Linked DNA regions of Homo sapiens: region 1 is reported to be linked to region 2. The links are microRNA targets in miRTarBase. Many come from high-throughput screens and were not tested one by one. Region 2 holds a microRNA gene; the other region holds the end of a gene's coding sequence.

Region 1 (4,064 bases), not on the chromosome of region 2:
GTTCTCTGCTCTGATCAGGGCAATGGGAGGAAGAAGTCACCCCCAGCCTGCAGGAACCAGGTGGAGGCTGAAGTCATTGTCCACTCTGACTTTAGTGCATCTAACGGGAACCCTGACCTCCATCTCCAAGACCTGGAGCCTGAGGACCCCCTGCCTCCAGAGGCTCCTGATCTCATCTCGGGTGTTGGGGATCCAGGGCAGGGGGCAGCCTGGCTGGACAGGGAGTTGGGAGGGTGTGAGCTGGCAGCCCCCGGGCCAGACAGACTTACCTGCTTGCCAGAGGCAGCCAGTGCTTCCTGCTCCTACCCGGACCTCCAGCCAGGCGAGGTGCTAGAGGAGACCCCTGGAGATAGCTGCCAGCTCAAATCCCCCTGCCCTCTAGGAGCCAGCCCAGGCCTGCCCAGATCCCCGGTCTCCTCCTCTGCCTAGCTCTTCCCAGAGGATGTGGTTTGGGGCAGGCAGGTATGGATCACATAGGATGCGATACCTGTGGCCGTGTATGTCCACATGTGTGCCTGTAGATACATCATCAAGCCCTTTGGAGCTTCCTAAGTTGCTTTGGCTGAGGGGAGAGGAAAACATGGATTATTCACTCCCCCCATACTCTTTGTGATACACATGTGACATGTGAAAGACATACGAGACATAGCTACATGTGATGTGCACATGTGTGAAGTGCATGTATGCGTACTGGTTGTTGAGCTGGGAAACCGTGGCCCAGGCAGTGGTCACTACAGCCTGATTGGTCCTCCAGGTCAGAACGGTGCCCCACAGTGGTCAGTCCCCAGCCCTGTGGGCCCCCACCTCCATCGCCCAGCCTTTTATTACACACTCTGAGAGTGTCTCCAATGCCTGTCTGACAAAGACAGTCCCAGCCCATTCTCCTGTCTGGCTGGGTTGGGTGCAAGCAGGCTCTGAATGCCTGGCATTTCAGCTGCATCACCTCCCAGCTCCTTATTGCCCAAATAGAGAGGGTGGCCCTGGCTCCCCTCCGAGCAACTCTGCATTTAATTTTGTAATCTGGGAAGTGCCTGGTTTTGAAAATCCGCTTTCTCTCACTCTTCCCCTCCTTCCTTGCCCCTGGCTGCTCTAGTGTTCTGTCTCCCAGTCACCTCGCTCTCCCAGCACCAGTGCCCTTCTCCTGCTCCCAGATACTCTTTCCTTTCCTCTCTCCTGTTTTCCTTCCTCTGCTATCTCTCACACCTCTCCCAGACTATGTCATCTTGTTCTCCTGCCTGGGTTCAAACTCTGCATCCTTCTCTAACAACGTGACTACCTCATGTCTGCTTCAAGGCCCCCGTGCCCTTCCTGTATCCGCGGCTGCCGCGCACTCGCCTGCCATCCTCCTGCCTCCTCTTCACTCAGTGCTTCTGCTTGCCCTGCCCCAGGCAGCCCACCCACGCCCAGTGCGGGTGTGGAGAAGATCTTCTGGCTTCCCTGCATCTTGCCTTTGGGATTGGGATCCAAGGGTTCTCCATGGATGGATCCAAGTCATAGAGGGGAATGTTTGAGACAGGGAAGGGGGCTGTGATCCAGAGGCTCAGAATAAAAAGATGCCCTCCCTTCTATGCAGGGGGGCAAGTTTACTGGATGGAGATGATTTGGGCCTCTCTTCCAGAAGAAGCTAAAGGAAGAGAAGGGGAGTGAGAGTTCAGGGAGGCCCTTCCCACCCTGTGAGGCTTGACTTGATCTGGATTGGGGATGACAGGAATCTCACCCTCTGGGGTGCTGGCAAGGAGGTCTTTGCACAGGAAAAGGGGTAGCTCATTTCAGTTTGTTTTTTCTTTAAATTGAATCCTCAAGTCATTTTCTGTTCACCTGCCGCACAGGGACAAGCTTGACTTCTATTTTCTGTGTAGTGAAAACAATGTCATTTATTTGGTTTTTCACCTCAGCCCTCTCATAGGAGCATAGAATGTTAGGGTCTTTACTCCCTAATGATGTCTGATTGGCACATCAAGAGTTAACTCTGCCTTCTGGGCCAAATTCGAAATAACCAGTCCATTTTTCCTTTTTTTTTTTTTTTTTTTTAAATGGTGGAATGTCTCTCAGCACAGTTGCGGCTTCCTCAAACCCTGAAAGCATCTGTGTTTATTATACTCGGGTGTCACTCACTGTTGATGTCTGCACCTACGTTTCCACCTCCTCCCCCTCCTTCAGCCAGCCTATGATAACACTAAAGATTATTAATGTTGGTTTTGTATCTCGTTAAAGACAGAATTGTCACTTGTAGTATTTCTGTAGCATTCAGCGCTGCTGTGGCTAACACCACTGTGTATGTTTCATCATTGCTCTGAAGGTCAAAAGCCTCATTTTATTTTGCTGGTTTGATTTTTTTTTTTTAAAGAAGAAAAAAAAACTGCCCTGAATTAAATGGCTGTTTTAACAGTAGGCTCTTAGCATTATACCACATAGTCATTTTTCATGTTCTTGTTTAACAGGCACTGAGGTTCTGGTTTAAATTAAATAGCTGCAAATGAGACAATTTATAACCCATTAGGTTGGGTGGAAAATTGTTTCTCAAAAGCAAATAAGTAATAAATCTGGTATCTGCCTATAACTCACAGTTGATAAGAAAGTGGCCATTTCTCACTAGCACTATATATGATTTGGGCTCTGGGTAATTTGGAAGTGTTAGGTTTGTGTCTTTGTAGCAGTATTTTTATTAGAAAAGAATCTATTGGCCTTTTACAGGGTATTAATCCCTTTGTCACCTACCATTGATGCCTTAAGTTTTCTGAGTCTCAATTAAAAATCTTCCTTTTCTTGATGCATGACAAGTGTAATCAGTACTTGCTCATTTATTTGTCTGTATTTAGTTTATGCTGTACTATTTAATTATCCTTCCAGCGTTTTTTTTTTCTCCTTACAAATATGATACTCTTTAGTGTTAAGCTAAGGCATTGATTCATGTATCTGTCCTTATAATGAATTAATAAACTATTTTCCAGAAATGTGGAATTCTCTTTTGGAACCATTGACCATGACTAGAATTTCCTCAGCCTTTGTGCCCTAGGGATTTTATTTCTTACTGTGATGGGAAATGATGTTGTTGTTGTTTTTGAGATGGGATCTCTCTGTCGCCCAGGCTGGAGTGCAGTGGCACAATCACAGCTCACTGCAGACTCAACTTCCTGGGTTCAAGCAGTCTTGTCACTGTAGCCTCCCTAGTAGCTGGGACTACAGGCACATGCCACCATGCCTGGCTAATATTAAAAAAAATTTTTGTTATAGAGATGTGGTCTCGTTATCTTACCCAGACTGGTCTCGAACTCCTGGGCTAAAACCATCCTCCTGCCCCAGCTTCGAAAAGTGCTCGATTACAAGCATGAGCCACTGCCTCTTGGCCCAAAATAGTGTTTTGTTTGTTTGTTTGTTTGTTTGTTTGTTTTTTCAGACTAATCTCACTTTGTCGCCTAGGCTGGAGTGCAGTGGCATGATCTCGGCTCACTGCAACCTCTGCCTCCCGGGTTCAAGTGATTCTCCTGCCTCAGCCCCCCGAATAGCTGGGATTACAGGCATGCACCACCACACCCGGCTAATTTTTGTATTTTTAGTAGAGACGGGGTTTCACCATGTTAGCCAGGCTGGTCTCAAACTCCTGACCTCAGGTAATCTGCCCGCCTTGGCCTCCCAAAGTGCTGGAATTACAGGCATAAGCCCCTGCGCCCGGCTCAAAATGGTGGTTTTTGAGGGTAAAAAGCAGGTGGTCATGGGAAAGAACTAAACCATCTTCCTCCCTCAACAGGCACTTAGGAAAAAGACGTAAACTTAGGAAAGATGTGTCCTTTGATGGCACTTCCTTAGACTCTCTGGGGATCTCTTTCCATCTGGGCACACATTTCTCTGAACTTTTTTGGGTGCAGGAAAGAGGGAACAACTCCAGAGATTTGGGCTCCACAACTATTCTCCTGTATAACTCTGGTCACCAAAATTACTCATGGCCACACAATCACACACACGTGCACTGTGTGTACAAGCTCAGAGACCCGCACATGCATACTTTGCCTTCACAAACACCCTTGTGTCTGTCCGTTAATGCAAATGTGCACACAGTCTCACAC
Region 2 (4,064 bases):
GCAGGTGGTGGTATGCACGTGTTGGGCACAAGGGGTCCTGCCTCCCAAGGGACCTCCGGGCGGAAGGGCAGACACGGCAGGGAAAGATGACAGCGGACAGGGCAGAGGAGGCAGCCAGCAGACTTCAGGCCCCAGGCAAACCACCTCAGCTGTACCCCCTGCACAGATGGAGAGCAGAGAATGGGCTGGGCCAAGGGGCAGCCCTGCCCTCACCAGTGCGGCCTGTCTTCAGCCTCCAACCCACTGAGAGAGAGAATGGAGAGGTCGTGGGTGGCAATAAGGCGCACACAACCCAACTCACATGGGCAGGACAGGCCCGGGCAGGCCGGTGATCAAACTGAACCGCAGCGGCTGAAATTCCCACAGAAAAGGCCAAACAAACCCAGCACCCCGCGGTTTCCAGAGCTGAGCCTCAAAGAACCCGGCCTGAAAAGGTTAGAGACAAGCGGATGGAGAAATATTTGTTAGCCAAAAGAAACCAAGGGTAGAAATACCTCATGAAACACTATAAGCTCTCGGTCAAAGAAACATTAAACAAAGAGAAATATATTATATTTTGATAAGAGACCTGATCTACCAAAAGAACAGTCATTAATTTTTAAGCTTTAAAAAAAAACACTGAACTATATAAAGCAAAAAATGGTTATTAATGTAAAAAGAATATTATAAGACTATAATCACAGTAGAAAAATACACTTTTCCAAGAAATCGAGCAGACAGAAAAAAATAAGTAAAGCTATACTGATTTAAATAACTCAACTGAGTTAATATATAATTAAAACAACATATAAAGAAAGGATACATATCCTCCTATATATAAATAAAATATATATAAATGAGAGAACTTTTTTTTTTGAGACGGAGTCTTGCTCTGTCGCCAGGCTGAAGTACAGTGGCGCAATCTCAGCTCACTGCAACCTCTGCCTCCCAGGTTCAAGCGATTATCCTGCCTGAGCCTCCTGGGTAGCTGGGACTACAGGCACACGCCACCACGCCCAGCTAATTTTTGTATTTTTAGTAGAGATGGGGTTTCACTATGTTGGTCAGAATGGTCTCAATCTCTTGACCTTGTGATCTGCCCACCCTGACCTTCCGAAGTGCTGGGATTACAGCTGTGGGCCTCTGCGCCCGGCCGAGAACTTTAAATACAATATTGATACATACATACAGACGTCTTTAGACTGAAACAAAATCCTAAGAGCATACTTTCTCTTCAAATGCCTGCAGAGCATGTACAAATTATGATTATGTGTACACCAAGTCATACAAAAATATGCACCCCCATTAAAATAATCAAGTGTACTCAAACAATAATTTTCCCATAGCACACTGACAAAAATGAGAGAGACTGAACCTACCCAGTGCTGGTACAGCACAAATGAAAAATATGCATCCTCTTACACTGGAATTAGGAAGATCAGTTGGAACGAGGCTTCTGGAGCAATTTGACAGTCAACCTAATGATGTTTTAAGTGCACGGGCTCACTGACCCAGCTTCCACTTCCTGGAATTTGTCTAGTAGTGATACTTAGAAGTTTACAAAATATATGTATAATAATTGTTTGATGCCAATTTGGAATTGGTATAAACACTGCTACAACCACATAAATATCCATTCGCAAGGTATCAAAAGAGCAAGTTATATTTGCACACATACTGATACCAAAAGATGCTTATAACACATTAAAATGGACAGAATGTAAAACACAGGGCCCTGCCTATAGAATTATACTCTATGAAAATGCTCACACACATCACACTATGTTTAGACACAGAAAAAAGATACACTCTCACCCAACAGCAGCCCAGTGTAGGAGGGAGAGAGCCAGCTCCATTCAATGTCTATTTAGACACTTTGAGCCATAGCGCTTAATTTTGTCTTGGAATGATCATAAACCATTTCTTTACATCAGTCAATACATAAACAATTTAACTCAATAAAACTTTCATATCTAAAAAAACCTGGAATCTTGCCCTCTGGAATTTTCAGACAAAGACGATTCCACCCAGGGAAAGATGTGTGTAAGCGTTCCGGCAATCTCAAAGAGAGTGACCCAGACAGACCCTGAGCCTCTCTGCCTCTGCTCTAAGGAGCAGGACCCAGAGCCAAGGCTAACAGAGCCTCAGGTGCCTGTCCAAGCGTCTGTCCAGTGGCCACCGTCTTCTCTCTCATGTGGACGCAAGACAGAAGTCGATGGCTAAGTGCCCTTGAAGGCCACGGTGCGCTGGAAGTGGCAGGAAGCTGGGCAGCACAGGACTGGCTCTGCAGGAGCCCCACACTCAGGCAGGTCGGCGGCAGGCCTCGAGGTTTCATTATGGTGCACGCTCTCGGTGACTTTCCAAGGACAGAAAGTGTGAAGTCGTAAATGGATGGGCCCATGACATGCTTCTGAAGCTCAGAGCAGGACAAGCTTGCTTCCCAATCATGTGGGTCCCCCACCTACCAGCTCTGTGACCTCAGGCAAATTACTTCTTCCCTCCAGGCCTGAGATGATCTGGGGCTGTACTAAATGCTTGTAAAATGCTTAGTGCAGCCCCTCACAGAGGCCCTCAAACACCAGGAGCAACTGTGGCCACGACCTCAGTGGGAACATGAGCTTCTTCCCAGACAGCCCAGACGCCCAGTTGGAGGAGCACTCCCACCCCTCACACAACCCCTCATGAAACAACAAAGACACTGGGCAAGAAACCAGCTCTCCACATCACAACCTGACCTTTCAACATCACCCTTGTCAAAAAGCATCGAGGAAACCTGTGTGCCTCTCAAGTCAGCCTGCAAACCGGGGTCGCAGACTTGACTCCACATCCTCCCAGGTTTTATCATTCTTCTTTCACCAAGAGGAAGAATAAACCATCCATTTTGCACTTTGTGCTGTCAAAAACCAACAGTGACCACTATCAAGAAAAACAAAAGTCTCAAATCCAGAAAGCAAGCTGCAGTCACAAGAACTTCTACTTTGGGCAAAGAAAGCCCCGCTGTGTGCCCAGAGAAGAAATGACCCGGCCTTACCTGGATGGCTTTGGGAGCTCATTGCTAGCAATGTCCACTCCTTTAAGTGATTCGAAATGGCTCAAAATTTCCACGGAAACGATAGCTCCAACGAGCTCCAAACTCCCACCAACACATACAAGTACCGGGACGGTGAGGGCTGGGTCACAGACGTTCAAGCGCCGAGCCTCGCCGGCAAGGTCTCATGAGCCAGGTAACCCACAAGTTGAACAGAGGCGTCCGCTGGCTTCTGCAGATGAACCTGCAAGGTCAGAAGGAGAAAAGAGACTGGAGTTACAACATGGAAGTTCCGATCTGGAAAACAACATCCAACTAGGGAAATGATGACTTCCTCTTTTTTTTTGGAGACAGAATCTTGCTCTATCGCCCAGGCTGGAGTGTGGTGGCACGATCTGGGCTCACTGCAACCTCCACCACCCCTGCAACCCTGGGTTCGAGCAATTCTCCTGCCTCAGCCTCCCGAGTAGCTGGGAACACAGGTGCATGCCACCAGGCACAGCTAATTTTTGTATTTTTAGTAGAAACGGGGTTTTGCCATGTTGGCCCAGGCTGGTCTCAAACTCCTGACCTCAAGTGATCCACCCACCTCAGCCTCCCAAAGTGCTGGGATTACAGGCTTGAGCCACCACGCCCCACCAACTTCCTTCTTTATCCTTGTTCTGACCAAGGACTGATAGAACAGTTCGACGGAATCATTTCTACAAATACGAGCAGTGGGATTTTTGTTAGTAAATCACAGACATGTAAAAATGTCTCCAGAGAGCAGGGTTTCTCAGCCTCAGTACCACTGGGATTTTGGTTTGCGTATTTAGGTGTTGGGGTGTAGGGCTGCCATACACATTATAAGATATTTAGCAGGATCCTGGGCCTCCACACACCAGATGCCAGCAGCATCTTCCAGGTCATGACAACCAAGAATGTCTCCAGGGAGTGCCAAAGGTCCTCTGGGGGATAATATCATCCCCTGGTTCAAAATATCTGATCTAGAGACACCTTCCTTACCCCTTCCAGAAGTTTCTCCAACATTAGGCTTTTGAAAGGAAGCAGAGTATCT

Evidence for each region. The annotated mature microRNA hsa-miR-2467-3p reads AGCAGAGGCAGAGAGGCUCAGG and lies in region 2 at 2,065-2,086, opposite strand. An mRNA with a match to its seed (bases 2 to 7 or 8) in the 3' UTR can be bound and repressed. Matches are read on the target gene's strand: a 7mer-m8 pairs with bases 2 to 8, a 7mer-A1 pairs with bases 2 to 7 and ends in A, and an 8mer does both.
Region 1: the mRNA of IGDCC4 is a reported target of hsa-miR-2467-3p. Seed matches in the 3' UTR shown: 7mer-A1 at 1,000-1,006, 7mer-m8 at 1,185-1,191 and 7mer-A1 at 1,247-1,253.

What each region holds. Positions count from the first base shown.
Region 1 is chr15:65,380,374-65,384,437 of GRCh38, reverse strand. IGDCC4 (immunoglobulin superfamily DCC subclass member 4) reads left to right here. Exons shown (of 20, transcript NM_020962.3): 20 at 19-2,954. The coding sequence ends at 429. Among named protein-coding and RNA genes, the nearest start is that of IGDCC3, 4.4 kb to the right of the region's middle.
Region 2 is chr2:239,349,668-239,353,731 of GRCh38, forward strand. It overlaps MIR2467 (microRNA 2467), which reads right to left and starts at 2,137; the gene lies at 2,057-2,137. It overlaps HDAC4 (histone deacetylase 4), which reads right to left. Exons shown (of 27, transcript NM_001378414.1): 2 at 3,011-3,251. The coding sequence starts at 3,032. RefSeq lists a silencer at 2,800-2,993.